Regions from separate parts of the Homo sapiens genome. Here region 2 is linked to region 1. Evidence: fine-mapped expression QTL. Tissue or cell type: whole blood. Region 1 holds a variant in brackets; the other region holds the start of a gene. All regions are shown on one strand. Distances are from middle to middle.

Region 1 (2,685 bases):
TTGTATAAGGTGTAAGGAAGGGATCCAGTTTCAGCTTTCTACATATGGCTAGCCAGTTTTCCCAGCACCATTTATTAAATAGAGAATCCTTTCCCCATTTCTTGTTTTTGTCAGGTTTGTCAAAGATCAGATGGTTTTAGTTGTGTGGTGTTATTTCTGAGGGCTCTGTTCTGTTCCATTGGTCTTTGTCTCTGTTTTGGTACTTGTCCCTGTTTGCAGATGACATGATTTTATATCTAGAAAACCCCATCGTCTCAGCCCAAAATCTCCTTAAGCTGATAGGCAACTTCAGCAAATTCTCAGGATACAAAATCAATGTGCAAAAATCACAAGCATTCTTATACATCAATAACATACAAACAGAGAGCCAAATCATGAGTGAACTCCCATTCACAATTGCTTCAAAGAGAATAAAATGCCTAGGAATCCAACTTACAAGGGATGTGAAGGACCTCTTCAAGGAGAACTACAAACCACTGCTCAAGGAAATAAAAGAGGATACAAACAAATGGAAGAACATTCCATGCTCATGGGTAGGAAGAATCAATATCATGAAAATGGCCATACTGCCCAAGGTAATTTACAGATTCAATGCCATTGCCATCAAGCTACCAATGACTTTCTTCACAGAATTGGGAAAAACTACTTTAAAGTTCATACAGAACCAAAAAGGAGCCTGTATTGCCAAGTCAATCCTAAGCCAAAAGACCAAAGCTGGAGGCATCACACTACCTGACTTCAAACTATACTGTAAAGGCTACAGTAACCAAAACAGCATGGTACTGGTACTATTCTTATATTTCTAAAAGCTTTAGCTTCATATGTTTAGCTTATATGTTGTTTTGTACATACGGTTTTTGAAATATTTTCATAAATTTTACAATTTGTTGTTATGCGTCACTTTTTTAATCCTGTTTAGTATATAATCTTGAATTCTATCTTATTTAATATTAAATATTGCCAATCTTGCTTTTTATTTGTTTGCAATTTGCCTGGTATTCCTCCTTTTATCCCTATAATTTGAATCCGTTGTCACCAATTTAAGTGTATCTATACCCTTAAGGGTATAAATGTTGTAGGTTTTTTCTTTTCTTTTTTCTTTTTTTGAAACACGGTCTCACTTTCTTACCCAAGTTGGAGTGCAATGAAACTGCATCATAGCTCACTGCAGCCTCAAACTCCTGGACTCAAGTGATCTTCCTGCCTCAGCATCCTGAGTAGCTGGGGATAAAGGTGTGTGCCACCGCACTCAGCTATTTATTTTATTTTTGTAGAGATGGGGTCTCACTGTGTTACCCAGGCTGGTTTTGTAGGTCTGGCTACAAGGAATGTTCCCACCTCAGCCTCCCAAAATGCTGATTACAAGCGTGAACCACTATGTTCAGCCTGCTTTTGGTTTTTAACCCTCTCTGAATAAGCTGTATCTTTTGACGAGATGATTCAGTTTGTTCACATATTTAATAATTTATATGTTTAATAATGTACTTGCCTGTCTTTTCTGTTTCCTATTGTTTTATATTTGTACTTTATTTTAAATTGCTTTTTTCCCCTTATTTCCCATTG[G/A]TTTGGTCAAATTGTTACTCATCTTTTAATGTGTAGTGTCTAGCAAAACTGTTAAATTTTATTAATGGTTTCTATTTCCTTGTACTCATAATCAAACATATAGTTCTCTATTGTTCTTTGAAACAAGATACCAACTATTTCACCAGGTATGACATTGCCACAGCTTTCTCCCCTTCCTCCCCGCATGGGATGAGACCACTAGAACACCTTCCTCTGTTATCCTCCCCTTCATCCCTCCTTCTCTCAGTCCTGAGATGGACATTTGGAATGTCTCTAACCTCCTTCCCCTCCCACTGCCCCTGCTGAAATAGTGTTGCTGAAATTGTTTCGTGCTATTAGTTTTAGGCTATTGTAAGAATTTCCCTTGAAATATCTCCCTTCAATTTCCAGATTATTTAAGATTAATATTTCACATTTCCAGAGAATTCATTCTTCTCCATTCAGAATTTTTCTCCTGTTACTGAATTATTATCTTTTTGCTATATAGCCCCTTTTTTTCCTTCTGAAGCCACAATACTTGAATGTTAGGTTCATGCATCCATTCCCCAACTCTTGCTTTTGTCTTCATCATTTTCATCGTCTTATAGTTTTGCTCTGTGTGTTGGCATATATTACTTCCATTTGACTCAATTCAGGTCTCAACAGTAGCCACATTTTTCTTTCCTTCACTTGTTATGCTGTGTAGTTGGGAAATCCACATTTTAGCTTTTGAAAGCCTTTTTGGGTGTGTCCTGCTCTTGATTACCAATAAGTGCTCTGTTTTTCTGTTCAGTCTCAGAGATAAGTATTTGAAAGCAGACACAGCCACAGATACAAGAGAAATTAAAATACTTACAAGAGAAGAGTATATGTAACTTTTGGCAATAATTTTAAAATCTAGAAGAAATGGATGATTTTCCAGCAAATAAAAGTTTCCGCAATTGACTTCAGAAGAAGTGGAACGCTTCAAAAGACCTATTATGACAGAAGAGAGAGAAAGTAAACTACCTTTTAATCAACAACCAGGGCCCAGTGATATCACAGCTGAATTGTGTTGGACATTGAAAGATTAAGAGAGCAGCCTTCTGTGGCTCGGTGTGCACTTTGATAGGTCATCCTCAGTCTGGACACCTTGAGCGTTGT
Region 2 (2,685 bases), 90 kb after region 1:
GTCCCCTGTCCCCTCGTGCCAGAAGCCAGAGGCCAGAGGCTATGTTTATTCAAGCCTGTTTCCTCAGTGCTGAGTGCAGTGCCCTGCTGGAAATAGGTGCTGAGTATGCTTGATCAGCTGACTTTGCTTGAACATCTTCAGTCTCTTAAACAGTCATGTATCCAGAATGTTGCATTCTGAGAAGTTCTAAATAGCCAATGATTATTATAGCCATTAGCACTCACACCTTTCTCTGTTATTACACTGTAAATTCCTAGAGGCAGAGCCCCAGACGCTTCATCTTTGTGCGCTGAAAATTCCAGGCAGGGACCTGGGCAGACAGGTGTGGGATGAGAAGGACACTCTGGCCAGGAGATAAAGCCACCAATTTTCCTGCATAGACAACTTCCAGCAAAGCCTGGGAGTGGAAATGACTGATCAACTTGGAAGATGATCCCAAGAGAACGTTCTAGACTAGGAAATCAGAGCTCATTTGTGGAATGCAAGCCCACCCATGACTTCAAATGCTACAAATTCTAGAAGATTTTAAAAATGCATCACCTGTTGAATGCTGAGTGAGAAAATAAAGACAACAGAGTTGACTGAATATTACAGACCTGAGTTTAACCTAAGACAAACTAATTATGAAGCTATGAACATATTTCAGTCAACATGAAATACAGAATATGTTTCCTGACCAGCACATCAGTTATAACAGAAATCCCCTTAAAGAATTTTAAAGAAGCTGTGTTTTGAAAACTGTCATGCTTGGCTTCAGTTTTGTGGTCCCCTTTCAGTGCCCCTGTTTTGCGTTTTCATTGTATCACCCAACCTGTGTGTCAGAATAAGACATTCATTAAAAAAAGGGGACATTTAATAAGCATTGGCATTTTTTCAAGGGAAAATATTTAAATATGATTAAAACAATAGTGAAGCTAAGAAAAACCTGACTATATGCTAAAAATACAGCATCTATTATTAGCATTCCAGAAATTCCAAATTGAAGCACTCCAGACAGTATTAGTGATGATTACGTGCAAAATGCAGCAATAAGCCAAACCTAGACTTTCTATTGACTTGTCTATTTTCGTATCTCGCTAGCAGAAAGACTACATTTCTGGTCATTTCCATTATTGGGGAATCGTACTTTACCATTGATTTCGAAAGGCTCCATTGCAATTTGGTGAAAAGCAGCTTGTTGGGTCTCACTCAAGAGCTCGTCCTCCTTGAGAATTTTCTTATTTCTCATTGCCAAGCTTTATAGATGGCCAAAGTCCTGGAGCCAGCAGAAATGCTCCCCTCAAGAGGAACCACTTGGAGAAAGATCCTTCCCATCGAACCACTGCAGCTGGTTGTAAACCTCGCAGCACTTCCCTTTGGCTCTGATTTCAGAATTTGCAGGATGTTTCCTGACATGATCAGGATTGGACATTTCTCAAACACGGGCTATTCACATGTGGATCTCCCACACAGTGCTGCTGCTTGTTAAGGGGGATCGAGGAGGCTTTGGGACACAAGTTACGGGCCTCTGAATGCACCCGTCACTCCCAGGTCCCTGAGACCCAAAAGCTGGATGGCTCCAGAGAGGGCCAACCAAGCCCTGCCATGGGCCCAGACTCAGCTCTCTGTCCCAGGACCTCTCCAGCCCACAGTGAAATCTCCCTTCTCTGACCTGCCTCAACCTTTAGAGTTCATCCTTGCTGCTCAAAGTGTGGTCCATGGACCAGCAGTATTAGTATCACCTGAGAACTTGTTAGAAATGCAAGTTCACTTGTTCTAACAATGAGTCTCTGGTCCCACCCCATCAGATCAAATCCAAATCTACAGTTTAACTAGATCCCCAGGTGATTTATATACACATTACAGTTTGAGAAGCCTTGCTCTGAACCACACATTTTAGCACTTAGTATTTCTTCTTGTAGTTTTCCCATGTTCTCTCTCTGTGTGTGTACACATGTGTGCACATGTGTACATGTGTTACAGGTGTCCTTGTCCAGGCCCCAGTGAGATCTGAGCTCCTTAAGGAAAGTAGCTTCTCCCCTCTCTCCCTCCCGTCAGGCATCTCTACCAGGGATGCTGTATAGCATGGTGGTTAAGACACAGACACTAAGAGCTAGAATGCCTGGCTTCAAATTCCACCTCTTCCACATAGGGGCTGTCTGGCAGTAGGCAAATCACTTGAGCTTTGAGCATCTCACTCTTCTGTTTGTATAAATAAGGAAGATATGAATTTCGTGAGCCTTAAATGAATTAAATCATATAAGGTGGCTAGGATGGAAGTATTAGGTAATAAACACTATGGTCATGTTGTTGTTATTATCATTAGAGACATTGTGAGCCTGCTGGGCACCGAGGAGATGAAGAAATGGCCTTTTTTCATGAAAGATATTCACAGTCTACCATGCAAGATGGTTGCGGCTACAACTACATTCCAGAAAATTGCTGTGAAGTGCGGCAAAGGTTGATGTCCCTGAAAAGACAGAAGTGCCGGGAGGCAGGGGAGACAGGGCAGAAATATGACAAATAGCTTTATCATCTGAATCAAGAGATATCAGATACCAGAGCTGGGCTTAAAAGGATAATGGGGGATTGATCCAGATCAAGATGAGGCAAAGGCCCTCCAGGGAGGAAGGAGGGCAGGTGCAGCCTCTCAGAGGTGGGACAGCCTGGAGCAGGGGAGCCGTAGACTTTTGGCCTATTTGAAAT

What was found. PIP is the estimated chance that this variant, and not a neighbour inherited with it, causes the effect.
Region 2: MARCO starts here. The variant in region 1 is fine-mapped to the expression of MARCO in whole blood (INTERVAL, PIP above 0.99).

The regions. Positions count from the first base shown.
Region 1 is chr2:119,030,557-119,033,241 of GRCh38, reverse strand. No RefSeq gene overlaps it. Among named protein-coding and RNA genes, the nearest start is that of MARCO, 90 kb to the right of the region's middle. The variant G/A (reference allele first, on the strand shown) is at 1,564.
Region 2 is chr2:118,940,844-118,943,528 of GRCh38, reverse strand. It overlaps MARCO (macrophage receptor with collagenous structure), which reads right to left and starts at 1,335. Exons shown (of 17, transcript NM_006770.4): 1 at 1,132-1,335. The coding sequence starts at 1,228.